Homo sapiens: one gene and its partners. The protein of the gene in region 5 purifies or fractionates together with the protein of the main gene of each other region. This does not show direct contact. Each region holds a gene or a part of one and is shown on either strand. Other genes may lie near its edges.

What was found.
Region 1: the proteins of FAM9C (region 5) and AGGF1 purify together in Homo sapiens (affinity purification with mass spectrometry; one large-scale study listed by BioGRID and IntAct). This does not show direct contact.
Region 2: the proteins of FAM9C (region 5) and SESTD1 purify together in Homo sapiens (affinity purification with mass spectrometry; one large-scale study listed by BioGRID and IntAct). This does not show direct contact.
Region 3: the proteins of FAM9C (region 5) and RASEF purify together in Homo sapiens (affinity purification with mass spectrometry; one large-scale study listed by BioGRID and IntAct). This does not show direct contact.
Region 4: the proteins of FAM9C (region 5) and MORC3 purify together in Homo sapiens (affinity purification with mass spectrometry; one large-scale study listed by BioGRID and IntAct). This does not show direct contact.
Region 6: the proteins of FAM9C (region 5) and RIOX2 purify together in Homo sapiens (affinity purification with mass spectrometry; one large-scale study listed by BioGRID and IntAct). This does not show direct contact.
Region 7: the proteins of FAM9C (region 5) and NEK9 purify together in Homo sapiens (co-immunoprecipitation; one large-scale study listed by IntAct). This does not show direct contact.

The regions. Positions count from the first base shown.
Region 1 is NC_000005.10:77,033,176-77,037,329, reverse strand, and holds part of AGGF1 (angiogenic factor with G patch and FHA domains 1), read right to left. Parts: intron 2,913-4,154; coding exon 2,810-2,912; intron 1,790-2,809; coding exon 1,587-1,789; intron 775-1,586; coding exon 610-774; intron 1-609. UniProt on the Homo sapiens protein: Promotes angiogenesis and the proliferation of endothelial cells. Able to bind to endothelial cells and promote cell proliferation, suggesting that it may act in an autocrine fashion.
Region 2 is NC_000002.12:179,254,673-179,258,826, forward strand, and holds part of SESTD1 (SEC14 domain and spectrin repeat-containing protein 1), read right to left. Parts: intron 1-4,154. UniProt on the Homo sapiens protein: May act as the primary docking protein directing membrane turnover and assembly of the transient receptor potential channels TRPC4 and TRPC5.
Region 3 is NC_000009.12:82,996,708-83,000,861, forward strand, and holds part of RASEF (ras and EF-hand domain-containing protein), read right to left. Parts: intron 3,864-4,154; coding exon 3,726-3,863; intron 3,610-3,725; coding exon 3,462-3,609; intron 1,740-3,461; coding exon 1,658-1,739; intron 420-1,657; coding exon 305-419; intron 1-304.
Region 4 is NC_000021.9:36,318,905-36,323,529, reverse strand, and holds the start of MORC3 (MORC family CW-type zinc finger protein 3), read right to left. Parts: upstream 3,334-4,625; 5' UTR 3,266-3,333; coding exon 3,227-3,265; intron 1-3,226.
Region 5 is NC_000023.11:13,034,960-13,038,865, reverse strand, and holds the end of FAM9C (protein FAM9C), read left to right. Parts: intron 1-362; coding exon 363-425; 3' UTR 426-450; exon of another isoform or gene 451-2,847; 3' UTR 2,848-3,249; downstream 3,250-3,906.
Region 6 is NC_000003.12:97,958,568-97,962,721, forward strand, and holds part of RIOX2 (ribosomal oxygenase 2), read right to left. Parts: intron 3,142-4,154; coding exon 3,022-3,141; intron 613-3,021; coding exon 484-612; intron 1-483. UniProt on the Homo sapiens protein: Oxygenase that can act as both a histone lysine demethylase and a ribosomal histidine hydroxylase. Is involved in the demethylation of trimethylated 'Lys-9' on histone H3 (H3K9me3), leading to an increase in ribosomal RNA expression.
Region 7 is NC_000014.9:75,116,737-75,120,890, reverse strand, and holds part of NEK9 (serine/threonine-protein kinase Nek9), read left to right. Parts: intron 1-310; coding exon 311-381; intron 382-1,955; coding exon 1,956-2,061; intron 2,062-3,564; coding exon 3,565-3,696; intron 3,697-4,154.

The DNA of each region.
Region 1 (4,154 bases), on a different chromosome or scaffold from region 5:
TTAACCTCACTTCTCTATTAATTCTATGAAAAAAATACTGGTTTAGGTTCTAAAATATTTACGATGTAGTTAACTATCTGCTTTTATTAACAAAAGCTCCAGTATTTTTGTCTGTTATTTTTATACATAAAGACTTCTCCAAAACATTGTCTATAATAATCACAATAAAATTTATTTTAACCTTAACCTTATTTTAAAAACTTAGAAGTGTAGCATCATAAGCTATTTTAGAATTCTTCTGTCAAATAGTTTTGAGTCAAATATAATTTTAAATGCAGCTTTTTGCTTTCTTACTTCGGCTTAGGGTTTAATATTTGATATCAGGCACTGAGTATGTATCATACAGTATTAAAAGGTCTGAGATGTAATTCGAGACCAGCCTGGCCGACATGGCGAAACCCTGCCTCTACTAAAAATACAAAAAATTAGCAGGGTGTGGTGGTGCATGCCTGTAATCCCAGCTACTTGGGATGCTGAGACATAAGAATCACTTGAACCTGGGGGGTGAAAGTTGCAGTGAGCTGAGATCACTCCACTGCACTCCAGCCGGGGTGACAGAGGGAGACTGTCTCAAAAACAAAACAAAACAAAAAGGTCTGAGATACTTACAGAATCATAATAGAAACCAGTGCTGTGGTCAAAATACAGTCCAGTATTTTCATCATAACTAAATCCAGTCTGTGATACAGCCGCTTCTGCTGCAGCTCTCAAACTTTCAGCTAATGATGAGCCTTCTAAGGAGGTATCTTCTGTTGCTAATGCAGATGCTGGCTCCTATAAAAGATATAGTCATGCCAAATAAGACAAAAGCTTCTGTATATCAATTAAAAAGTTGGCTGAACTCAAGACCTGAGACTATGTTTAAGTAACGACTTCAATTTCTACAAAGGAAAAGCATGACTATCAATTATGACTTGAACCACTTATTACAACATTTACTAGTGTGTCAGTAACTTCAACTTTGACCCAGTTTTGAAGGCACTAAAAATGAGTGACAATTATTCGAGAATAAATGTATGATGCCACAGGGAAGCCATCCACAAAATACAGACCCTGAAATATTGGCTAAGACAAAGATCTAGGTTCTTCAATGATTATATGTTCAATTGGAAAAAAAATTTCAAAAAGACAAATGAAGGAGAAAACTGTAGATTAAATGAGATATATCAAACACAATAGGGATCCTAATTCAAACAAACTATAAAAACAAATTTATAGATTCAGGGAAATTTGAATAGTGGCAGGGTATCTGACATAAAGGAACATTAAAATTTTTTTAGGTGTAAATGTGGTATTGTTGTCCACAGTTCTTTTGTTCAGTCAAAATATCTGGACAAATTTTGTTTTAGTTTATGTAGATCACAAAATTTTGGAACACAATGTAGTAGGAAAACCACTACATATATGAAGAAGTTCTAATTCTGGTTTTGGAAAAACTACAACATTCTTTGCATAATTACACATAAGAATGTTTATAACCCTTATATATGCTGTGACGGACCAAAGAAGTCTATCTTTCCACATAATAACAACAAAGAAGGACAGGTTCTTGGGCATCAACAGTTTCATGTTTAGCATTTTATTACCTGTGAATTTGAGGCAAAATGGTCCACTTGTCTATATTTAACATTTTCTGTTCTATCGGTACCAGGGTAAGCATCATTTTCTACTTGTAAATGGTCTTTAGAATTCAAAATAGAAGTTTCGATAGCTTGATCTTGTTGATCTGACAGTTCAGTCACTTTATTTGGAAGACTAACGTCATTGTAGTACGTCTGATAAAAATAATCTGTAGCAAAAAAATGAAGTGAAATCGTATCATATTAGAATAATGTATATAAAAAGGACTTAACTACAAAACACTGGCATTTAAACACAAAAAGCACATACTTCAAATAAATCATGATTTTTACAACTGTACAAATTTTAAAAGATTAAAACAGATGGCACAGATAAATCTGCAGAAGTGTGTATCTTTGATTCTAATGTCTCCTTCAAGACCCTAGCTGTCAGTTAAAAAGAAAAAAAAAAGGTAAGTTGGTTACATTTTCTACAGCAAGAGTAAAATAAAAATCTGTAGATAGGTTGTGTTCTATTTAAAAAACTTAACTCTTAACTTCTAACTGGATACCTTAATACTGTTGCTTATCAACTGATAATGAAATAAAGGCAAGGAATTAGGGATTGATTTATTTTTTGGCAAATTTCTCTCCCCATGCAGACTTTTTAAAACGTATCATGCAGATAAGAAAAGTTAGCACTATTGCTATGTTTAGCAATTTAGCCAAAAATTATGTCCTGACTGAAGCAAGGCAAAACTTAATAGGAAAGATGATTTCTTCTTGTGACACATATATATTAAAACTCAGTATCTCAGCTATTTTGCCTTATAACATAATGCCATTCATAAGGCCATGGTGGTGGGCTCACCATTCCCACAAGGGTGAGAGACTGATACTATACATAATTCTAATTAGAACACATCAACAAGAAAACAAATGCCCCTGGTCACAAGGAAGGCAGATATGGAAGTAGATGGCTAACTGCCTGCCAAAAATTACTCAGTGAGTGTGCCACTGAAAACATTAGCAACATTATAGAAATCACAGGAATGACAATACATTTCTACTTTTTCCTCCAGAAGAACAAATTGATTATCCGAAAATACCATTATCATATGGAGAGACGTCAACAGTATTAACAATTCTCATTTACCTTGATCTTTGTTTATTTTAAATTAAAAGAAAACGCAACATTAGCATGATTTGAATGTAACAGTGTTAGCATATCCTCACTATAAGCTAAATACCTGAGATTGACCAAGGAGCATGGTTCTCTGTTTGTACTTCTACATCAGACTTTTTATTATCTTCATTTCTCCCACGTTGGAGTATTTTACTGAGTTCTTCCACCTGAGAGAAAACAAGGCTTTAGGAAAAAGAAATCATGTAACAATCTAATAATATATATACCAGTCTCCTACCGTTACAAATAATTGTTTTAGAGAAATGTCAAGAGCAGCAAGTTTCCCTTTCAGAAAAGCTAAAATTATTATTTTACTTTATACATTTAAAAGGCATTTTTATTCCTAATCTCTCTTACTAAATGTCCAAATATCTCCTCCAAAAATCGAACTAAATAATGAGACTTTGTGAACAAGGTCCTTTATTTCTAACAAATAAGAATGCTTTTATGTTAACATTTTAAAGTCAGTTCTAAAGAATTCAAAAATTCAAAATTTACAAATTCTCATCCCTACTGGATTATCTAATACTCATTTGGTATTCTCCACTGGGAATTAACTATCCACCTGAATATGTTAATGCCACTTACAAGCTTTAATACATTTTTTCATTAAACAGTAGTCCTATAATTAAGTAACTGTAGCAGAAGAGAACAGGGAAGGTGACGGCCTGAGAGGGGCATCTGTCCTCCATGTACTTCACACACTAAAATACCCTTAAAAGGATGCTACTACATAGGACAGAGAGAAACAAGTGTGTGGAAGTGCCCAAAAGCAAGTAACATGCTGCCTCGGTCAATACGCTGCCTCAGTCAATACACCTCAGCCTGAGAGGACCTCAATGTGAGACAATGTCTACTACACACAAGAAACCAACTAAAAAACAAGCTTTTAAATATTTATTTAATGATACATAAAGCTTAAACAGAGAAAGGTGATAAAACTGATCTGTTGCTAATACTAGGGCAGGAACTACAGTGAGGGAAGCAAGACACTGATCGTGAAAAATCTGAGGCGCTCCTCTGATTCATGCAAGTACAGAGTTCATCGCTGGGAATTAGTGCCCCATTAAATTCCTCGCCCTAGGAGCCTGATTGCCTTGCCCTAAATCCTGGCTCTGGCTACTGTCCCTATCACTATGAATTAGATTACTTAGTATCTACTACATGCTGGGCACTATACTTGATGCTTTAGATAACATCTCATTAATTCACAAAACCACCTGAAATATTCGTTGTCCTAACCCCAATTTTACACATAAAATATCAGACAAGACAAAGTAATTTGCACAAGGCTATTTTGGGGTCTTGTACAAACCCTATACATATTATGGTTCTCCAGTTATCATTCTCAAGCAAAACTTTTTAACTGCTCCAAATAAAACACATTCAGTAATTTGGAATGACAGTTA
Region 2 (4,154 bases), on a different chromosome or scaffold from region 5:
GCTAGCCCATGAAATAAAACCTACTTGCCATATCTAGTCCCCACTATATTAATCTGTTTGCCTCGATATATTTGCCATGAATTTTAGGTATATTTACATGCATATCTCACTTTAATACACTTTATTGTGCTTTGCAGATATTGTATTTTTCATAGATTGAAGGTTGGTGATAATCCTAAGTGGAGCAAGTTTGTCAGCTCATTTTTCCAACAGCATGTGTTCATTTTGTGTTTCTGTGTCACATTTTGGTAATTCTCACAACATTTCAAGCTTTTTCATTATTATTATATCTGTTATGGTGATCTGTGATCAGTGATCTTTGATGTTACTACTGTAATTGTTTGGGGGCACCATGAATCAAACCCATATAAGATGGCGAACTTAATCAATACATATTGTGTGTATTCTGACTGCTCCGCTGACTGGGGCTTCTCCTGTCTCTCTCCTTCTCCTCAGGCCTCTCTATCCCAGGAGACACAATAATACTGAAATTAGGCCAATCAATAATCCTACAATGGCCTCTAAATATTAAAGTGAAAGGAGGAGTCACATTTCTCACTTTAAATGAAAAGCTAGAAATGATTAAGCTTACTCAGGAAGGTATGTCTAAAGACAACAGAGGTCAAAAGCTAGGTCTCTTGTGACAGTTAGTCAAGCTGTAAATGCAAAGGAAAAGTTATTGAAGGAAAGTAAAAGTGCCACTCCAGAAAACATACGAATGATAAGAAAGTGAAACAGCCACATTGTTAATATGGAGAAAGGTCCAGTGGTCTGGATAGAAGACCAAACCAGCCATAACATTCCCTTAAGCCAAAGCCTAATTCAGAGCAAGACACTAGTTCTAGTCCATTCTATGAAGGCTGAGAGGTGAGGAAGCTCCAGAAGGCAAGTTTGAAGCTAGTAGGAGTTGGTTCATGAGGTTTAACGAAAGAAGCCATCTCCATAACATAAATGTGCAAGATGAAGCAGCAAGTGCTGATGTAGAAGCTGCAGTATGTTATCAAAAAAATCTAGCTAAGATAATTGATGAAGGTGGCTACATTAAACAACAGATTTTCAATGTAGATGAAACAGCCTTCTATTAGACAAAGATGTCATCTAGGACTTTCATAGCAAGAGAGAAGTAAATGGCTTCAAAATTTCAAAGGACAGGCTAACTCTCTTGTTAGGGGCTAATGCAGCTGGTGACCTTAAGTGAAAGCCGATGCTCGTTTACCATTCTGAACTGACTGAAATCTACTCAGTCTGTTCTCTATAAATGGAATAACAAAGCCTGGATAACAGCATATGTGCTTACAGCATGGTTTACTGAATCTTTTAAGCCTACTATTAAGACCTGCTGCTCAGACAAAAAAAAAAAAAGATTCCTTTCAAAATATTGCTGCTCATTGGCAATGCACCTGGTCATCCAAGAACTCTGATGGAGATGTACAAGGAGATTAATGTTTCCATACCTGCTGACACAAAAGTCATTCTGTAGCCCACAGATCAAGGAGTAAGTTTGACTTTCAAGTCTTATTATTTTAGAAATACATTTCAAAGGCTATAGCTGCCATAGATAGTGATTTCTCTGATGGATTTGGGCAAAGTAAATTGAGAACATTCTAGAAAAGATTCATCAATCTAGACTCCATTAAGAACATTTGTGATTCATGGGAGGAGGTCAAAATATACTGACATGAATAGGAGTTTGGAAGAAGTTGATCCCAACTTCCATAGATAACTTTAAGGGGTTCAAAATTTCAGTGTAGGAAGTAACTGCAGATGTGGTAGAAATAACAACAGAACTAGAATTAGAAGTGGAGCCTGAAGATGTGACTGAATTGCTGCAATCTCAAGATAAAACTTTAACAGATGGGGCCGGGCACGGTGTCTTACGCCTGTAATCCCAGCACTTTGGGAGGCCAAGGCAGGCAGATCACGAGGTCAGGAGATCGAGACCAACCTGGCTAACACGGTGAAACCCCATCTCTACTCAAAATACAAAAAATGAGCCGGGCATGGTGGCAGGAGCCTGTAGTCCCAGCTACTCGGGAAGCTGAGACAGGAGAATCACTTGAACCCGGGAGGCAGAGGTTGCAGTGAGCTGAGATCCTGCCACTGAACTCCAGCCTAGGCGACAGAGCGAGACTCCACCTCAAAAAAAAAAAAAAAAAAACTGACAGATGAGCAGTCACTTCTTACAGAGGAGCAAAGCAAGTAGTTTCTTGAGATGGAATCTACTCCTAGTGAACGTGCCATAAACATTGTTCAAATGACAACAAAGGATTTAGAATGTTACATAAACTTAGTTGATAAAGCAGTGGCAGGGTTTGAGAGGACTGACTCAAATTGTGAAAGTTCTACTATGGCTCAAACGCTACCACCCAGCATCTCATGCCACAGAGAAATCTTTCATGAGAAGAAGAGTCCATCAATGTGGCATACTTCACTGGTGGGTTGTTGTTTTTTTTTCAATTTTATTTAAAATCAGGACACATCTCATTCTATGTCATAGAATGAGGGAGTCTATCTTGAACCTATTCTGGTTCAGGGGGCTGCCCTTATGAAAAAAAAAGAAAAAGGCAAGAAAGTAATTACCATAGCTACCCCAAACTTCAAGCAACAACCATCCTGATCAGTAGCTATAAACACTAAGGTAAGACCTTCCACCAGCAAAAAGATTACAACTCACTTAGGCTCAGAGGATCCGTAGCACTGTTAAGCAATAAAGTATTTTTAAATGAAGATATACGTAGATCATTTTTTAGACATAATTCTATCACACATTTTGTAAACTACAGTGTGAACATAACTTTTATATGCACTGAGAAACAGAAAATCGTGTGACTTGCTTTATTGAGATATTTGCTTTACTGTGGTGGTCTGAAACTGAACTGGCAATATCTTAGAGGTATGCCTACATTTGTATATACCCCATTTTGTTCTGCAAAGGATTAAAGACACAATAAATGAACTATAACAAGTTAACAAACTAAAGATAAAGGCAAAGAATAGAGAAAAGAACCAAAAATGGTGCCAAGAAAAAGGCTAAAAATTGTATAATATAAAAACCTATTTACGGTATGGAGTGGGCCACAAATCTAGTTCTGGCTTTCTAGTAGCCATAACAAAAAGGAAAACCCAGGCAATCTAAGAGATACACAGAGAAGTACTCAGAAGGGGAGCTACCTTGGTAGTTAAACCAAACAGTAATTTCGTATAGCAAAAAGAACCCCATAGAATGATCAAAATATAGGAGACACATAACCACCAGTCTTCAAAGGGTTAGATGTTTCTCATATTGTCCCTCAGGAGAGACCTATGACACCTTACCAAAGCCCAATGTGGCAAAATTGATTTTACAAAGACAAGACACAAGCTTTAAGAGCTCTTTATTCTTTTACTCAGTTTCTTCCTTCATTGCCTCCCTAATCAGATTATAAACTCCTTGAAAACAGAACCATGTTTTCTAATTCTTATATATAGCTCCAAAGTATTTTGTATTCTGCAGAAAAGATGCAACGTCAGTGAGAATTTACACAGTGCAATTCAAGACTTTTCTGATAAAAATTATCTAACCTAAACTCAGTAATTCCCACTTCTACTACAAAAACATGCTAACTGAAGCCCCAATAGATAGAATTCCTAAACTTTCTAAACTATTACTGAATCACAATTCATGACCTCTCAAAAGCATTTTGTTTCATACATCCCTAGCACAAAGCATGCAAGGATACCAAATCAATATCACTGAACCTGATCAAATAAAATGAAACTCATAAGCAAAAGCTCTGGCAATACCCACTAAAGGAAAGACAATATTACTATCTTTCAAGAATATAATCAATAGGTCTTTACAAACCAATTGACAAAGGCAGGTTCATTTTCTAAATGATTCTGCAAATCTACTAGAAGGCAATTAAATTATAACGCAGATTACTTCTTTCCAAGAATGTGCAGTTTCTGCATATGCCAAGCTGCTGAAGAACTGTACTTCTCAGCTCTCACACACACATGCACACGCACGTGCATGCATGCACACACACACACACCACTATCAAACCAGCTCTGACCACTAACTTACAATTTACTTCTGTGCTTTACCTGGTCAAACTGAAAATGAAATTAGGAGTAGGTAATAAATTATTTAGATAAGGTGATTATGGGAAAAT
Region 3 (4,154 bases), on a different chromosome or scaffold from region 5:
TCTTCCTAGGCTACCTGGATTTTTACTTGCTTACGATGGGATTCTGATTTTATCTATAAGAAAACCTAGAAGTTTTATTCCCCAAAGCTCCCTTCATTAGTGTCCTTGGCTTCAGGGAAATGTGCCCAAATCCTGAGGAAGAGATGAATGCTGCCAGTTCTGCCTGTAGCATCCAATTCTTCCTGATGGCTTGGATCAATGGTTCCTAATCAAGTTCATTCTGACAAAGAAGAGAGACAGCATTTTCCAAGATGGCCTAAAACTTCCTCGTGTAATTTTCTGTTTCTCCATTATGATTTCTTACCTCAATCATATCTACCCATTCTCGTATGTTAAGAAAGCTTTTCTCACATGTAACATCATACAGCAGCAAAACACCATCTGCCTTTCTGAAGTAAGACTTGGCAATACTTCTGAATCTGAGAAAGAGAAAACCACATCATCAGTCAGTTTGTGTTGCCTCATTCTTCTTCTCTTTTATGCTCATTTTTTTCTCCTCTTCTAAAATCAACACCAGTTGAGAAGACTCTAACTGCAATATATGACTGAGACATAGGCATTTCAAAGGTCTCGAATGACCCAATGAAAGGTAACATGATGAGAATCTGGGTGACCGACTTAGAAAATCCAATCCTTCTCTCTACCAAACAACCCCAAGAATGTCTACAATCCCCAGAGCACAACCAGGGAAAGGTTGAGAGCACAGTTTCCAAAAATTTCAACCTCAGCAACAAGCTACCAGAACCCACATGTGGGACACAGAGGAGGCTGGAAGGAGATACGAACTAGAGAATACTTATTTTTGGTGGTGGTGGTGGTTAGGGAGTATTGTGGGTGGATGGAGGAACTACCAGTGTGGAACGCTGTAACATACCAGGACTTTACATACATGGGGGTCAGGAGATTCACCTTGGGAAGAGAACACCTCAACACACATGCCCTAACTTGAAACCCAGTGCAATATTTTATAAGTATTTTAAATACAGTCATGTCAACCACAAATATTTTTTATATGTTGAAATTCCCAATCTGCTAGAGAATATGAGCACCATGGGGGCAGGTATTTGTGCCTGTCTGTTCACCACTGAATCTCAGCATGCTGAATAATGCCTGGTACAGAGGCAGGCACCCCATACTTACGGGTTGAACAATTGAATGGATTTTGTTCCGAAGGAGTTAAACAAGATTAAAATCTGTGCTTAATGCTCTGCTTATCGGTAATGAATGCAAGGTAAAGTGCCATCACCAAATGCAAGTCTGCTATGCGGTTTGTGCCTCTGCCCTTAATCAAGGGGAGCTGACTGGTTCTCTTCTCCATCATTTATTGTTCTATAGCCAGGGAGTTCCTCAGGCTGTCACTGCACTCAAAAATGCTGCCTCTCATGTTAGCAAAGGGCACTCTCTGTCTCAACTGAACATCAGCTCAAAAGAAGCTTAAAGATCCTCTTCTCACAGGAGTCATAGGTAAATGAAGGAGATGTGCGAGAATATAAGCATTTTAAAGTTATAATACATTTTATAATTATACATGTAATTATGCATATAATTATAAAGTATGTTATAATTATAGAATTTTGAGTATGAAGAACATCAAGTGGCCTGCAAGGCTTGTTAATGCAAACCCAGGATATCCCATAGCGCTGCGGAATGCACTTGCCTCTCCTGACCAGCTGTATCCCAGAGCTGCAGAACTGTTCGTTCTCCATCCACAATGAGGGTTTTCATTTGGAAATCAACTCCTGAAAAGGAATGTGAGAGTGGAGAGCACGATGTAAATAATTCCATTGGCTTTTTACTTTCAAGCCTTCTTTAGATGAAGCAAAAGCCAATAATACACAGCTCAGCCAGGGAGGGAGGAATGAACATGACCTTTAAGGAGAGTGACCTTCAAATAGGAATGACAAGTCAGACCACACGTGTGTGCAGAGGCACCATCTGCAGGTTGGCTGACTTGGGGAATGATTTAATTTATGAGCCAAGGGAAAAATCTGTTTTATTTTCCCTGATGACTGGATGAACTCAGTCATATTTGTGTGTGTGTGTGTGTGGGTGTGTGTACATGTGTGTATGAGTGGGCATGCATGAATGTGCAGGTGTATACGTGTGTGTATGTATGTGTGTAGGTGCAGATACGTGTTTTGTGTATATGCATGTATGTATATGTATATGTAGGTATATATGTATAAATGTATGTATATCTAAACATGTATACATATGCGTGTGTATATATACACACGTTAGTGCACACACACATTTACATGCATCATGGTCTCTGACAACTGAACCAAATACTGTATGTAGTCTTTTTATGAATCAAATTGAAGTAAACTTTCAGCTTTGTTAATGTTGAAGAGTGTATCAGAGAACCATAAATTTACAAAGACACTCATGTGAAGAGGACAATCAGTCTGTTCTAACATTTCGGGTGATCAAAATAAGAACTCTTTAGACGAAGAAGAAAAATAAATGATAATTTGCATATCTTCAACTCCTTTTACTATTATGCAAATTTGGGAAATCAGGATACTACTTGTTCTATTGTTCTGTTGTGAAGGTGGGTAACGGATCATATATCTGGCTATGATTTTGACCATAATGACAAAGTGGCAATCCATATTGTCACTTTGTCAACATCAAATACTTCAGCAGAAAGGGTTTTCCTGGCCACCCTGCGTAAAACCGCACCTCTCCCTAAACTTCTTTTTTGTACCTTTTCCCTCCACTGGGATGTAAGTGCAGTGCAGGCTGGGATTGTCAGCCTTCTTCATGGTGTATCGTTTGTACCTACAACAGCATCTTGTTTTTAGTGGGACTCAGGAAATACATGCTGAATAAATGAATCTGATATCTCAGGATCTAAATTTGATTCAATTCATCTGATTGGCTAAGCAGATATCTCTCTTTTTTTTTTTTTGTGGCAGGGTCTCACTCTATCACCCAGGCTGAAGTGCAGTGGTGTGATCTCGGCTCACTGCAACCTCCGCCTCCCAGGTTCAAGCGACTCTCCAGCCTCAGCCTCCCGAGTTGCTGGGACAACCAGCACCCACCAGCATGCCCAACTAATTTTTGTATTTTTGGTAGAGATGGGGTTTCGCCATGTTGGCCAGGCTGGTCTTGAACTCCTGACCTCAAGTGATCTGCCTGGCTCGGCCTCCCAAAGTGCTGGGATTACAGGCATGAACCACCGCACCCAGCCAGATATCTCTGTCATTTTAATCTTCCTTTCCTAAAAGCAGGCCTTGGCCAAAACAAGAAAGACCTTTCCATAGACTAGGAGACACACACACACACACACACACACACACACACACACACACACACACACACACATTTATATATGTGTGCATACACAGAGAAAGAGAAAACTGTTAACTGAGCATCTGTGTATGTAATCCCTGAAGAAGAGAAAATCAAGCTAAGGAAGGTCATTTTCCCATTATCAACCGAAATACGAGCCATACCCAGGGTGGCGCTTATATTTTCTCGAAATTCATTCTTGCAAAGTCTCATGAGGAAACTAGACTTCCCCACTGCAGCGTCCCCAGCAAGTACAATCTTGTAAGCCTTCTGTGAGCTAAAAGATTTAGCGTTGTCATCTACCAGGTCTGTCTGGGGGGAAAAGCCACAGTGAATGATAACGGTATTGCCAGTTTTCATCCTAATAAGTAACACTGCACAGAAAATAAGCAGTGTTCATGAATAGGAGTGTCTCGGAGACCACCTACCTGGGGCGAGAGTGCTGAGATGGGCTTTCTTGATGAACTAACAATGCTGCCTTCACTAACAGACCCTTGGGGCTTCCAGTCTAAGACGGAAGCCACATCTTCTAAACCAAATGTCTCTTCATCCCTTATGTCAGGAACCTATTTTTTTTAAAATGTCAGCAGTTAAATTAAAAAATGTCAGCAGTTAAAATACAAAGTCTAAAATGTATACATTATGGATTAAAAAGAAGAAAACTATGCAGCTAAATCAACAGTCAATGCTATTAATATTAGGGAATAGAGTGACACTGAATGGCAATCTATGAGAATTTCTCCCTAACTCTGTGGAGGAAAAAGCATTTTACTAACTATGCTTTACATCTATGACCTTTAAAACAGATTTCCATGACAGATAGAAGGCAAATAAGGTGACAGATTTCAATCACGTAG
Region 4 (4,625 bases), on a different chromosome or scaffold from region 5:
TTTCTGGAAGTGGTGTTATTGTTAGTGGTGGATATTCTCCACCACTAACAATAACAAAAACAGCAAACATTATTGTGCACCTACGGCACGCACAGCCCTTTTATTTATCTATCTGCTCATGTAATTTTTAAAACAACACTTTGAGGTGTGTAAGATTATTATTGCCAACATTCAGATTGGAAACTCTGGCACAAAGAGGTTAAATGACTTGGCCAAGGACATACATCTGGTTATGAGTCAGGATTTGAACCCGAGAGAGTAGGCTTCAGAATGGCAGTCACTAAGCTACATATCAGACAGAAGGATATGTGAGATGGAGACACATGAAAAGAGGAAGGAAATTTCCAGACAGATGTTAAAGGGAAGTCCCCAAATTACGACTGAGCCGATGACTCCCAACTGACTTCCAAATGACAAAACACTGGGTGTGTCTGAATCCATCTGGAAAAGAGCTCCCAGTTCTCTGGATGTCTGGATGATCAGTACAGAGAAAAACTAAGAAAACAAAATATAAATCAATTAACTTCAGGGAAAACAAAAGGTTTGTATAGGAAAGAAAATGCAATCATACTACCCTGGCTAGCTCATTTGTAAGAGTAATAACAAACCATATAGTAATTCAACCAAAAAAAGTGAAAAAAGCATTGAAGTATGGGAGGTGGTGAAGAGTGTGCATCAGCTAAATCCACAGCAGCATTTCTGAAAAAAAAAATCAACAACAAAAACCAAAGTATATGCATTTCATTTCACTAGAATTACAGGGGTAAAAAGCAAAAAATTTAAAAACTTTTTGTCACTCTGCATTTCATCCTGGGATCTCCGACCTCCTAAATGACTGTTTAAAATGTGTATACATTGGGCCGGGCACAGTGGCTCAGGCCTGTAATCGCAGTGCTTTAGGAGGCCAAGGCAGGAGGATCACCTGAGGTTGGGAATTTGAGACCAGCCTGGCCAACATGGTGAAACTCTATATATACTAAAAATACCAAAATTAGCCGGGTGTGGTGGCCCACGCGTGTAAACCCAGCTACTCGGGAGGCTGAGGCAGAAGAAGTGCTTGAATCCGGGAGGTGGAGGCTGCAGTGAGCCGAGATCGTGCCACTGCACTCCAGCCTGGAGACTGAGTGAAACTCTACCTCAAAAAAATAAAATAAAATAAAAAAGTGTATACACTAAGGGTTCACCCTTTGTGCCTTAAAATGTAGGACTTTTGACAAATACATAAGCTCATTAATTTTTATCTCTTAACGCATGCATTTGAAAACTATAAGCAAATAATGTTTCTGGCTATATTCCAATAAAATTTTATGGAAACTGAAATTTGTATTTCGCATAATTTTTATGTCACTAAACATTCTTCTTTTTTTCTCAACCATTTACAAATGTATAAATCACTCTTAGCCTTCAGGCCACACAAAAACAGGTGCTGGGCTGGATTTGGCCCATGAGCTGTATGTAGTTTGCCAACTCCTGACCTAAAGCAAAAGCAAAGAGGCTGCAGATGGGAGATTTCTGTCAGTCAGGTTCCCAACAGCCCATATTACCCACAAAACAAAGACCCAGCACATGGACAGCAGCTACACCCAGAGTGCCCGCTAACAATGCTGGTCTCTAAACACTGACCATTATCTCTGCTTCCTTTCTCCCCTCAATCTTGAAGAGCCAGAGTCTACAAGGGCCTGGGGGCGGGAAGGGAGAAGAGAATCAAAGGACAGAAACAGGAAATCAACTCACTCCGTTTCTCCACTACAGGTTTCTGGGCCTGAACAAGACTCAACCTCGAGAGAGGAAGGAGAGAGAAGTGGGGAAAGGAGATAGGGGAAAGAGAGGGGGAAAAGGGAGGGAGAGAGAATAGAGATTTTAAACTAGGTAAGGCCAGACTTTACAATACCTTAAGCTAATGGGAAAGCGTTAGTCAACCCAGATTCACACAAGTGGGGAATAATTAATGTTTACACTCAGTGGTTAAAAAAAAAAAAAAGAAAAAAAGAATAAAATTGTCCTCTATTTTCAAACTACTAAAGCCTAGCTCACTCAATAAGCTAGTTACATAACGAAAGGATGGACCTTTATCCAGAATACGTAAAGAACTCTTACAAATCAATAAAGATCCTCCCAAAAGAAAAACAGAAAATGGTCAAAGGATATGAATAGGCAATTCAAAAAAACAAAACAAAAAACCACAAAGACTAATACATGCGAAGAGCTCAACAACACAAACAGTCAAGGAAACGCAAGTAAAAGCAAATATCATTTCACAAATATCGGACTAGAAAAAATTTAAAGTCCGTCAAAACCAGGTGTTAGAATCTGCCTAAACGAATGAAAGTCCCAGAGCAATGCACCAATTATTCACTACGTGTTTGTACCCCAAGGAGTCACTACCCATTCGAATGTTAAAATTAGTGGCACTAGGGCAGTCATTCTTTGGCAAAAGTCAACAACCTCCAGAAAAGAGGAACATTTCAGCATAACATCAACTGCGCTCACAAGGTAGAAAAGTTTTTTAGGATAATCAGGTGGGGAAGCCACGCCCACATTTCCTGGACGTGAGATTTCAAGTTATCTTGTGTGACCGCTCCCTACGATTTAAGATACAAGAAATGTTCACAGGGTTTCCAAGAACTCGAAACGCCCCAAAACAGACGCAACGCGGGATAAAGAGGAGAGCTCGAGCTCAGCGATCTAGGGTCTGGGCCCCAAGGCTTCCACTGCCAAGGAAGCTGCAGGCACTGACAGGCATCAGGCACACTCATCCTGACTCCACTCGCCCGCAGGCAGGCCCGCAGCCCCGTCCCCCCGCCCCCGGGACGTCGAGGCCGCCGGCGTTTCTGGACGCGGAACCCGCTCCCTCCCACCACGACGCCCAGCGGACAGAAGAGGGTCAGGGGCCCCGCGGCCCCGAGAGCAGACCGATCTCCCGCCGAGGCCTCGCCCGCGGACGACAGCTGCTGGGAGACTAGGAGGGAGCTGGGAGGAGGAGCCGCGACCCTGGCCCGCCCCGAAGCAAAACAGAAACACAATGCAGAGGCGACGGAACGCAGCCCGGCCCGCAGCCGAGCTGTTCCGCCGACGGGAGCGAGATGGCCGCCCCCTCCCCGGGCCCCGCCGCAGCCCCCGCCGCCGCGTCGGCCCCACAAGCCGCCACCGCCCACTGCCGGCCCCCCTTCGCTTGCCCGCCCGCCCTCCTGGGACACGGCCCGCTCCACCCCTCGCGGCTGCTCACCGCGCTGAGGCGTATCCCGCGGGGTGGCTGCGCCGCCATCTTGAGCGAGCTACAAAGCCAGGAACGGCCTCCGCCGCAACCCGACTGGGAGGTGGCGGAACGACTGTGGAGCCCTATGGGTACCGCCCACTTCCGGGGAGGGGCGCACGTCTGGCCCCTCCCACCCACTTCCGCCTCCAGGCAATGCCGAATTGGGAGCTTGGGGAAGATGAATTGCCTGACTGGTTAAAGCAGGGTACAGTGGGAGCTGAGCTTCCAGCGCGGGGCCCTGCGGGCCTAGGGCGCATGCGCGAGGCGCGGCCGGCCCGTACCCGTCTCGACACCCAGCTGGAGCTCGAGACTCGGGGATCTAGAGTTTGAAGCCTGGCGCGAGATGCGGTATACCCGAGACCGGTGAACTCCAGTCACTTGACCTGGTCGGATGTGAATTGCGCAGAAAAAAGCCATTCCATATCCACCAGTGTCCATGTGAAACCTTAACGAAATAAAGACGGAAATTAATGTAGACTGTTTGGATTTGCCCTGAAAACTATCAATCTAACTCATGATTTAAAAAAAAAAAAAAGAGTTCTGGGGCCGGGCGCGGTAGCTCACGCTTGTAATCCCAGCACTTTGGGAGGCCGAGGTGGGCGGGCGGATCACCTGACTTCGGGAGTTCGAGACCAGCCTGACCAACATGGAGAAATCCCATCTCTACTAAAAATACAAAATTAGCCGGGCGTGGTGGTACATGCCTGTAATCCCAGCTACTCGGAAGGCTGAAGCAGGAGAATGCTTGAACCCAGGAGGCGGAGGTTGCAATGAGCCGAGATTGCGCCATTGCACTCCACCCTGGGCAACAAGAGTGAAACTCCGTCTCAAAATAAATAAATAAGAGTCCTAAAGGCATAAGGCCGGTGCAGTGGCTCATGCCTATAATCCCAACACATTGGGAGGTCGAGGTTGGGGGTTCACTTGATAGGGGTTCAAGACCAGCCTGGCCAACATGGTGAAACCCCATCTCTACTAAAAATACAAAAATTAGCTGGGCATATTAGTGGGCGCCTGTAATCCCAGCTACTCGGGGGGCTGAGGCAGGAGAAGTGGGTGAACCCAGGACAAGGAGGTTGCAGTGAGCCCAGATCGCGCCACTGTACTCCAGCCTGGGCGACAGAGTGAGACTGTCTCAAAAAAATTAATTATTTTTAGAAAGAGAAATTGGCTGGGTGCAGTGGCTCATGTCTGTAATCTCAGCACTTTGAGAGGCTACATTGCGAGGGTCTCTTGAACCCAGGAGTTCGAGACGAGCCTGGGCAACACGAGGAGACCTCATCTTTACAAAAAAAAAATTGAATTAGCTGGCAGGGCGTGGTGGCTCACACCTGTAATCCCAGCACCTTGGGAGGCTAAGGCGGGCAGA
Region 5 (3,906 bases):
TAACAGGTGTTTAAAATCTTAGTAAGAAAGAATGTTTCTTAGTTAATTTCTGTATAGATCTTACCTATCTGTGGTCAACAAATTATAGGAAGGGTCATCAAATACTCTTCATTTGAAATCAAGAATTAAGACGTATGTGTTGAATATGTATAAGAAAGAAAATTCTTTACTCCATGACTGATGAAAAAGGTTATTGTTTTAGCACATGAGTGGTGAACACAATTGTTTCAAATTGGTCATAAACGTTGTCTAAAAGAAAGTGTTCAGAAGTATTGATTTAAAGAGTATTTCTTTAATGCAGAATGTTTTATAAGTATTAAAATTTACCCAATTTTAATCACTTTTTTGTTTTGTGCCTCTAGAAAATATTTCAAGAGCAACAAAAGAGGTGGCAACAAGATGGGAAAGGAACTGAAAGAGATTGAGCCACCACACGAGCAATTCACAAAGGTCTGTTCTATTTGGTAACACAATACGTTCTTATAAAATACAACACATGCATAAAAATAGAAGACAATCTGCTTGTTTCTGAATGTATGGAAAGACATTTTGGTTATACATTTTAAATTACTTACCATTTTCACTTTGAATGTGTTGTTCCAGATTTAACATAAGTAGTAAATAACATAAAATAACATAAAACAGTATTTTTAGGATTCATGAATAGTTTTGTAGGAGTTATTTAGAACAGGAAAAGGTAAATTGGAAATTTTACCTAGAAATATACATCTTGTGTATAAAAATTGATACCTTATGAACACATTAATGAAGACTTTATTTTCAGTTTTTAGGAGATCAGCGACAAATCTTTAGTGGAAGGCAGAAAGTCCATAAGTCCTTTCTGGATGTCTTTTTTACTTGTGTTGTTTCAAGAGTTTTAGTTAAATAGGAAGTAGGCAAATGTAACTACTGAGTATCTCTTTTGTTTTCTGCTGTAATGTAGGAGTGTTTTATGGCATATTCACTTTCAAAATTATTAGTGACTAGTAATGGTTTTACATGACAATTTGTAATCATAAGAGATGGTTCAGATGTATAACAGAATGGGAAAGCCAGCAGATTATTAACATGTTGTGAATTGTGAATTATCTGCTGTCGTACAGCACATTAGCAAATTGTCATCGGACAATGACCGCTTCTTCATGTAGATGTATATTATTTAGGAAGCAATGGAATTCCCTTCTGGGAGGTAAGATATTCTTTTTAATAACCTTGTGGAAAGACATGTTCATATGTCACTCCTCTACACTAACTGAGATGTGTTAAATAAACTGGGAAAAGAGTTTGAAAATAGAATTTTCAAGCAACTCAAAGATTATCTATACACAAAACGGTTATTTATATAGAAGTCACAAGTAGAGAACATGTTGCTATAATGTTCCCCAGAAACCATTTATTAATTGGTATGAACATGAGACTAGAAAAGTTTTCCTGTCAATGTTAATGCTACATGTTACCACTTAGGGTAGGAACTTCGGTATCATCTTGGACTCTTCTGAGTCCATTATCTTTCACATACAGTTTTCATGAGGCAAGTTTTACTCTGCAATGGTCCTTAAATTTCTTTTTTTTAAATTGCCACTGAGGCAACCCTAGTTCAAGAACTCATTCTTCCTTGCTTGTACTATTAAACTCTTTTCTGAGTTCTCTCTTCTCTTCTGAGCCACCCTTCATTGATCAGAAATACTATCTTCCTAAAACTCTTCCCTTCCTAAAATGCTTCTAGCCCTTCACTCTTCCCAGCCTATCAGTGGTATCCACATGTCAGTTCTTAGATATTCAGAGACTCTCCCCTTTACATGACCCCCTCTTAGGCTTGTTTTACTGCCTTCTGTCTTTCTTCCCGCCTCTCCAGGTTGACAGCCTTCTCTGAACGACCTCTCCATTACTCTCATGCTTTGCTCATGCTCTTCCCTCACAATGCTTTTAAAGTCCTTTTTTTTTTTTGATCGATTGAAATCTTTTGCCAACTAAGTGGACATCAGTCTCCATTTTTGGCTACATGTCCGAGTGAGTTGCTCTTCCACAGCAGTTACATAAGTTTTGTATTATTTTTTTTATTCGTGCATATTTGCTCATGTCACAGGAATATGGAAGAGATTGTGTATTCATTTTTTACATCTTCCTCAGCATTAACATACCACTTTTTAGGGAGTAGGAACTGTTGAACTATTTGTTGAGAGAATAGTATATATTTCAAACATAGTTATGTTTTCTCTAACTTGATGAGGTCATGTCACAGACCATTTTATCCCTTCAGTGGAAACCATGTTATGTCGACTATTAGTGATAACAAATGGGTCACTATCTGGTGAAAAAATATGGTATTTCATGATCTAAGACTACCAGTCTTTTTCTGTTTTTGCTCCATCTTGACCATAACATATTCATCAAACCATTTTCTTCAAGCAAAGTACATGACTGTTGGACCTGCTATAATAATATTTCACTAAAATCTGGCATTAAAAATTTTAAGTATTTGGAGCTCCATGTACTGATTACAGTTTTTAAATTTGAAATAAATGACCAGCATCCTTTGAATATTAAAAGCTGTTTCCTTTTGACATTTAATTTACTCTCTTTAAAATGTGAGTTGTAAAGTGATGGTTTGTCAGTGAACTAGACTTTTTGTTTTAGAGTGTGAGGACTTGGAAGAGTATAATGAAAGCCCTCTTTTTGGTGAAGAGAGTCAACTTAAAAAATAAATTGCCATGTTCCAAAATAATATTGTGGTAATTGTAAGTAGTGCATATTTTATCTTAAAAACTCAGGATTGATGTAAGCACTGGAATATTTTATTTGTAGAAATGTGTATCGCAATTACTTAAATTTATTTTTTTGAAACAGCTGCAGCAAGAGTTGGCACTTATTCAGATGTATCTTCAACCTCTGTTATTCTGGTGACTGACAAAAGAACTTGAACCTATGTTATATGATACATGCATAACTTGAGCTACACTAAACCACATGACAGTGTTTAGTTAATTCTTGTATAAATTAGTATATCTCTTCTATTATTAGTCTGTTTGTTAAATGCCAGACCACGTTTCTATGATCTGTTGAATGAACCCTAGACAGTTCTGTGAGAAAGCAGCAATTGCACAGTTACATACACAGTCAATTAAATTTTAACATTAAAGATAATTTAGTTTTAGGTTTGGCCTCTGTGGATCTGTATCAGTTCCAAAATGTGGAAAGCACGGGCATGGAAAAGTACATTTTTCTCTAATAAAAGAAGACAAACCCTTATTTTATCTGTGCATTCTTTGTATTTACTCATTAAGTTAAAGAAGCAATTCCAATGAAAGCAAGACTTCAAAAAATAGATAAACTCTGTGGCCTTTCAAAATTATTAAAAGTACCTTAACATCTGTGTTCTTGAAAAAATTAAACTACTATAAATGATTGAGACAACTGAGCAAGATATATTAATATCAGTGCTGAGCCACCGGCTTCTGGGTATGTCATTTCCACAGACATCAAATTGCCATTTGGTTTGTTTTGGTCCACCATTCAGTGATATCTCCCCTTAACATTGATTCAAAGTATTTTATTAACATTTATGTATGCTTACAATTATTTCACATCTGTGGCAAGGTAAATTATGTAGGGTGCTTTGTTTTTCGAGTTTAGTATTTGTGGAGTATGTGGAAGTTTAAGTATACATGCATCTAAAAACTTAAGTGATGAATTCTCCTACCTTTCCTTTTGTAATGTGCAGTTGTTACATGTAACAACATACAAAATGTTCATTTGGAAACACTTTATTTAGTAAATATGAAATTCAGAATATATTTGGAGTAAGTCAGTTAAATGTATTCTTTTGCTGAGTTTCTGAAATTCCATTCATGAATTGTTCAAAACACAATACTCCCATTGGGAGGAGAGGAGCGACTTCCTCTCATT
Region 6 (4,154 bases), on a different chromosome or scaffold from region 5:
GATAGCCTGACATATAACCAGGATGAAAATGAGTCACACTGGAATTTTAGCAACAACAACAAAAAAAACTAAGGGATCCCTGGCTATGTTCTGCCTAAGCAACTTCCAGCCCTGTGCTGACCATCGTCTTGGATGTGGAGAAGCTGCCCAAGGCCAGAGCTTCCATTTTTCCTCTAGAGGAGTCAGTGGTTCACTGAATTCTCTTTCTTCCTGTTGGACTTGAACTGTACATGAAAACAGGTTATTTGGGAAATGAACTTAATACTTCCTTAACCCACTTCTCCAAGTGCAAACCACCAAGACTCCTTCAGAAATTACATGTGCTGGCTGACAGCAATGAGAAGCACCCTGCCCTGAAACCCAGGGATATATTCCCACGGGGACCATCACACGAACTCTAAACCTTGAGCCTGAACTTGTCTTAGCAATAGGGGAAACCACAATGGCTCTAACAATGAGGTGCCCACAACGGTTATCACATACCTTCAGCATAAACTCATGCACCGGCCTGCCGATCCTTTCCTCGGCCTCCACGCTGTACTCTCGTGCCAGGGGCACAGTGGGGTGGTAGAGGCGCCAGTGTTTCTCTCCCTCCAGCTGCAGGATGAAAACCTAGAGACCCACAAGGCCCAGGAGCATCAGAGAGCTTCCTGACAACTCACACACAAAGTGCTTCCGGACTATTAGCCCTCTAAGGGGCTAATAGACAAATATATAGGTGAACCTTGAACAACACAGGTTTTTTTTTTTTTTTTTTTTTTTTAGTTGTTATAGACAGTCTCATTCTCCTGGCCAGGCTGGAGTGCAGTGTCACAATTACAGCTCACTGCAGCCTCTCAAACTCCTGGGCTCCAATGATCCTCTTGCCCTAGCTTCCTGTGTAGTTGGGAAGCTGGCATGCACCACAGCTCCCAGCTAATTTATCTTCTTTGTAGAGATGGGGTGTCACTTTGTTGCCCAGAATGGTCTTGAACTCCTGGCTTTAAGCACTCCTCTCACCTGGGCCTCCAAAAGTGATTACAGGCGTGAGCCACCACGCCTGGCCTAACAGCATGGGGATGAACCGTGCAGGTCCGCTTATATGCTGATTTTTTTCAATAAATTATATTGGAAAATTTGGAGGAGATTTGCAACAATTTGAAAAACATGAAAAATATCAAAAGAATTAAGAATGTCATAAATGCATCAAATATAAAAACATATGTAGATACTAGTCTATCATCTACTACCATAAAATATTCACAAATCTATTACAGAAGGTTAAAATTTATCAAAACTTACCTATACAAATACTTCTAGACCACCATTTGCAGTCAAGAAATGTAAACAAACTTAAAGATGCAATATGGAATAGCTGAATAAAATTAACTTTAGTACATATTGTACTACTGTAATAATTTTGTGCTACCTCCTGTTGCTATTGCCACGAGCTCAAGTGTGATGCTAATTATCTCCACATGAGCAGTTCCTCTCTCCAGTGAATTGTGTATCACAGTAAAAAATGATCTCTCAACAGTTCTTGTGTATTTTTCATCATGTTTAGTGCAACAACTTAAGCCGTGAATAACACCATGGGACCCATATGATGTGCCACTACTGCTACTGCAAGTACTCCCGAGAAACAGAAAAAAGTCGTAACGTTACAAGAAAAAGTTGAATTGCTTGATGTGTATTGTAGATTAAGGCCTGCAGCTGTGGCTACCCACCATTTCAGATGGACGATTCAGCTTGTAAACAAATGATGTAAACTTACGGTACTGATAAACACAATATTAAAAATACTTTTCCCTTTCTTATAATTTTAATAACTTTTCTCCAGGTTCCTTTACTGAAGAATAAAGTATATAACACATATAACATACAAAATAAGTGTTAACCAATTTATGCTATCAGTAAGATATCTAGGCAATGGAAGGCTACTAGTAGTTAAGTTTTAGGGAAGTCAAAAGTTACAAGCAGATTTTTGACTGCATGAGGTGTTGGCACCACTAACCCCCACACTGCACAAGGGTCAAGTTTCCGATAAAAAATAAAAATGAAAGATGAGAAATGCATGTCATTCCACAGTTAAACAAAAGTTGCCACTACTGGGTTTTATTTTTAAAAACGGAATCGTGAATCCTGACACTGGATATTCATTCTTTTCACTTTCTTAGAGCCTCGCTGAGTTCTTTATATCCCACTATCTCATTCCTTTAAATCTTCTATCAGACAGCTAAAAGCCCATAATCTCTGATGGAAAAGCCAAGCTTCAGATATTACTGAATGTCTAAATCCTGAATGTTGAAAGGGCCTGGGGAGATAGGAAAACTTCGAGTTTTTTATTCTTTATTCAGTCAAAGATATTCTATTAAAAATATTAAAAATAACATTTTGTGAAAATGTATTGATGTCAAATTGCTATCAAAGGAGAAAAAGGGGACTTTTTACCAATAACTCTGTGTTTACACCTTATATTAGGACAAAAATAAAACTATGGAATACATAAGCCAAAGAGTTAAATTTTTTTGGAAGCCATATCAGAGTGAAATCAACACTTGTCAAGATGCCAATGCTTAAGTGAAACCATGACCCTCATTCAAGCTGCCCCAAGATTTTCACAAATGGAAAATATATACATATTTTTGGCAGCTACTGAAAAAGAACAAAATGAAAGCACATGAAGGATTATTTGTGACCTCATCTTATTAAAGACCATACTTTGTGAAATTAAAGGAAAAGCCAAGCACACCTTTCTGTAGATAAATTCAATAAATACTTGTTTCAGACGAATGTGTGGCTCTTTAAATTAGTAAGGTTGGAAACAAGCTGTTCCTTTGAGACAGAGCAGGAAACCAGTTTAGTGGGATTTACTTTGGCCCAACATTTTGATGAAATCAATATCTCAGAAACTGCACAGAAAGAGCGAATACAGACCTAAGAGCCTTAGAGAATAATGTGAACTCACCCTGACAACTCTACTAAACCAGGCTCTCAACAACTCATTCTTCCCAACATGGGGCAATTTTCTCCATCTCTTACCTCGACATCATCATAATGGGGCGGCAGGCCCTGAGATCCTGCGGGAGTTATGTACACATTCGAGCCAACCAAGGAGCCAAAGTAACATTCCAGCTTCTCCTGGATCCTCCAAAGCTCATCCTTTACAAAAAAGGAAAAAAGAAAGGGTCGGCGTGGGGGAGTGAAAAATGTATTAGAAATAAGAATAAGAGCATGTTCTTGTTCACTTAGGAAGTCTTTACTGCACAACTATTATACACCAGATACTGGGAATTATGCAATGATACAGCCAATACCCATGGTCTCAAAAATCTTCCATTCCAGTGCAGAAACACCATGTAACAGACGTGAACAGATAAAGGGATGACTGACAAGGTGGGCAATTGGGAGTCCGGAAGGCTTTTAAGCAGGGAAGGACACAATCCAATTTACATTTTTGAAAGCTCACCCTGGTTATTGTGTGAAGAATGCACTGTAGAAAAGAGTGGAAGTCAGAGAGACTAGTGAGGAAGCTTCTCAGGCAGCAGCTCAAGCGAGAAGTGACTGGGGTGGTAAGAAAGGCAAGGAGGGAGGTAGAAGAGTGGGATGCACTCTAGAAGCAGCACAGACAGGACTTGCCGACAGACTCAATGTAAAGGAGCGGAGTTAAAAAAAATACTCTTGGGTTTTTGACTTGGGCAATCAGTTCCCCTTTCCACGTAACGAGATGGGAAAAACTTACTAAAAAACAAGTTTTCAGGACAAAAAAAAGAGTTTTATATTAGGAATGTTAAGTTTGGAATGCTAAGACCCCCCCCCCCCCCCCCACATGGAGATGTCTTTAAGTCGGTCTGAAGTTCTGGCAGAAACTAAGGACTGAAGATTTACACTTGGGAATTGCCTACACAAAATGGATATTTAAAGCAATGGGAACAGAAATGATAACACGGGAAGAAGGTACAGACAGAGAAGAAATAACAGGCTGGGTAATGTTCCTTCTCTCCACTATCAACTCTTCAGAGCAGACATCAGACTTAGGGGCCTAGCGATGGGCCATATATTCCCAGGAGAGAGAAGGAAGTCTGATTTTACCAAGGCTGGTGAGAAGAGAGGAGGGGGGCAATTAGGCCATGTAGATATTAGCACTTCCTATGTGCCAGGCACTGTCTCCAAGT
Region 7 (4,154 bases), on a different chromosome or scaffold from region 5:
GTTCTATTACTGCGTACTGGTATGCCCAGTTTTCTATAACTTTGCATTCTTCCTGAATTTTCCTACATGTCTGCTTTACCATACTATATATTATAATGACATTGGAACTATTTTATGAGGAACCTGTTTTTTGTGGTTTTTTACCCCTTCACTTTTCTTTGCCTACTCAACCTGCAAGGAAGAGATGTCAAGTCATGTTGAATCATAACTTCTGGTTGCAGTTTTCTTTGTTTTGTTTGTTTATGTGTGTGTGTATTTACTTAAATGGAGCTTTTTGTTTCTAATCCAAATATTTATTTTTTCTCTGCAGATGGTGGTGTGGTACCTATTTCAGATTGTTTCAGCAGTGAGCTGCATCCATAAAGCTGGAATCCTTCATAGGTAAGAAGTAAAAAAAATTATGGATGGATTCTTCCCTACCAATTCAGCCCCTACCGTGGATACCCCCCCAACAACACTTTTATTTTCTTGGTTAAGCAGCCAAGAGTTTTTCCATTGATATCACTAGGAAAGGAAAGTAATGAGCAATATTATTTTCACTCCCTGAGGTTAAACCATGTTTATGATCTAGGAAGAGTCTCCTCAGTAGCCAAGTACTACTGAAGTCATTTTACAGACAAAAATTTTAGAGTTCAGTTTGTTAATTCATCAGTAAAGCCTAGAAGGGCACTATGAGAAGTAGTATTTGGTAAGAATTCACAGCAATAATAATTGGCAATTCTTTTTAATTCTATAATTAAGATCTTTTAATTTAAATAAAAGCCTCTTCACTCTGTATATTTACTTGTACAAATTTACCAGATCTTTAAAAACAAGCATGATTGCATTCATTTCTAGCTATAGAAGAGAAGCATCTCAATAACATTTTCACATCATTATGCCCTTCTTAAGTGAGTCATTGACTGGTGCCAGAGATTAATTATAATACACTAAGATTTCTTTTTTTATTGGTTTGTTCATTCAGTTAACATGTATTTCTTGATAGCTATTAAATGGCTTCTGTTGCATGTTGTTATTTTCTTTTTAAAAGTAACAAAGTATATTGTTCTGGTTTATTCGCATCTTTCAATAAAGGAAGACATAGTGAACCAGGCACAGTTATTTTGTTTTACATATGGTCAATTTATCTTTAGAAAAATAGCCTGTGATTTTATTTAGATGACTAAATGGCCTAATCATATCATTGCAGGGACATGTAGGCCTCTTCTCTTGCCTTAACAGATTATTTGAAACTTTGACACCAACCAAGTTTGTTAAAGTTGCCTTGATATCACTTAATTCAAGGCATAAGTGATAGTTGAAGAGGTGTGGTATCTTATGGGAATTATGGTTACCTAGAGCACCATTTTCCTCATCTGACCGTCTCAACTTTTCCTAATAGCTTCAGTAGTATGGGAGATATTTCTATGCTGTGAAGCCCTAGAGGATGAAGTTAATTCTCTGCCTTCACTCCTTTAAAGTCCCCACTTCAGTGTTAAATAGCATGTGAAAGTGATGACCACTGTGGGATGTTTAGGATATCCTAAATGAATGAGCAATGGTAACACTCTTTTTTTGTTTTATTTTGTTTTAGTTTTTGAGACAGGGTCTCACCCTGTTGCCCAGGCTGGAATGTAGTGGTGCAATCATGACTCACTGCAGCCTCAGCCTCCTGGGCTCAACTGATTCTCGGTGCTTTAACCTCCCGAGAAGCTAGGACTACAAGTGTATGCCACCACTCCTGACTAATTTATTTTTTGTAGAGATGGGGTCTCACCATGTTGCCCAGGCTGGTGAAGAACTCCTGGCCTCAAGCAGTACTCCTGCCTTGCCCTCCCAAAGTGCTGAGATTACAGATGTGAGCCACTGTACCCGGCCCACACTCATTTTTATTCTGTAATAATCCTGGGCAAGGCGGGGGATGAAATAAAACAATTATCTGTGTGAACTTAATTTGCAGCATCTTTTTTTTTCAGAGATATAAAGACATTAAATATTTTTCTGACCAAGGCAAACCTGATAAAACTTGGAGATTATGGCCTAGCAAAGAAACTTAATTCTGAGTATTCCATGGCTGAGACGGTATGTGTTGCCCTTGTCTTAATTTTTATTTTATTTTCTAGCACTGTGAAATATAACTGTACTCCCTAAATCTTGCATACTTTTCTCAATATTCTTGCAAGTTCTCCATACTTTTAATGCATGTCTTCAGAAGTCTTTTTCCTGGGCCCACTAGCAGGCATTTAAGTCATTGCCCACGTTACAGCTCTGACCTCATAGCCTTTTTCCAGCACTGATTAGGGACTTATCTAAAAGCAGCAAAATGCTTTACTGTTTTGTCCAGGTTAGGATCTTTAGTAGATTTCACTTTATCTCTTATTTAATGTTTGAGCTCAAGGTGTTAGACATCTCTTTGTTTTTCCTTTGAATGCTTCTGGTTCAAAGAGAACCCTATATTTCAAGTGAAGGCTGATGCTCAGAGAACAATCCATTCTTTAATATTATACACAGTCTGAACTGCACAGGGGTCCCTTCTCACATGATTTTGAGAAAGATCATTGGTAAAGAGTAGACATAAGTTGATCTTTAGGACAGTAATCTTATCCTTTTAGGAATTATAAAACCCAGTTGTTATTCTTCTAGTTTCACAATGCTCTGTCCTTAAAAGAAATTGAAAACTGATTTTGGCCAATAATTTTTTTTTTAATAATGTCAAGGTTTGCCTGCAAGCAATTTAGATGTTTAGGGTTTGGAGTCTCTGCTTCAGGGACTCAGATGTTTCTATGATGGAGGCCAAAGTGAGCTTCTGAAGAAGCAATCATATCTTTATATGGATTTTTCTCATCAAGAACAATCTGATAAAACCAAGACTTGACTTTTTTTAGCTAGTTAAATGCAAAGAAGGAATGATATGAAAATTTATAAAAGCCATGTAAGCCATCTGAAATTTGCTTTGCTTTGCTGCTTAAAGCTGACTATGAATTTTATTAGAGCTGCTAGGGCATTCATTATATCTCATCTTGGGAGAGGCATGACTTCTTAGGACATTTTTATTTCCAAATTTATTTTTGAAGTCAGAAAATCTTTTTCAAATTCAAAGGAAATTCGCTAGCTGTGTTAGTATAACAGATGCCAAATTGGGCATTTTAAAAGTTTCATTGCGCGTATTTTAGTTAGAACATCTAATTCCTTCATTGAGTTACCATCTCCCCACTGCCAGTGTTTGGATTTTTTTCCCATTGGTGAACTTCTACTAAGTATGTCTTTAAGTTTGTGTAAAGTCTTCAGTAGGCCTTGAATGCCTGAAGCCTCTGTGATCTAGGAATCACAGAGCTATTGAGCCCCTCAAGTTACCACAGTTCCTTTGTCACAGAGATTGTCCCTTTATAATTGACCCAAGAGGTTTGATATGAATAAGATTTCTTTCCATAGTGGCATCGTCTCATAAAAACCATTTTGGAATCTGCTGATGAATGTTTTATGGTTGTTATGACTAGTTCCTAGGAAATTTAATTAAGCTGTTGAAATGTTAACATAGTTACCTCAGAAAAGAAGTTATTCTTTGATTGTTTCTTTGTTGCTCAGCTTGTGGGAACCCCATATTACATGTCTCCAGAGCTCTGTCAAGGAGTAAAGTACAATTTCAAGTCTGATATCTGGGCAGTTGGCTGCGTCATTTTTGAACTGCTTACCTTAAAGAGGACGTTTGATGCTACAGTAAGTTGGCATATTATCCCCATATTGCATTTAGCAGGTTGCAAATGGTACAGCTTGACTAAGCAGATCAACTCTATTCCCAGGCTTCTGATTTCTGGCAAAAATAACCTGTATTCAGGTACAAGATTAGTAATCTATTACTAAAATGCTATAGACCCAGCCAGGCGCAGTGGCTCACGCCTGTAATCCCAGCATTTTGGGAGGCCGAGGTGGGTGGATCACTTGAGGTCACCCCGGCCAACATGGTGAAACCCCGTCTCCATTAGAAATACAAAACTCAGCCGGGTGTGGTGGCGCACACCTGTAATCCCAGCTATTTGAGAGGCTGAGGCACAAAAATTGCTTGAACCCAGGAGGTGGAGGTTGCAGTGAGCCAAGATCATGCCACTGCACTCCAGCCTGGGCAACAGAGCAAGACTCTGTCTCAAAAAAATCTCCAACTTGAATTCCCTGTTGAA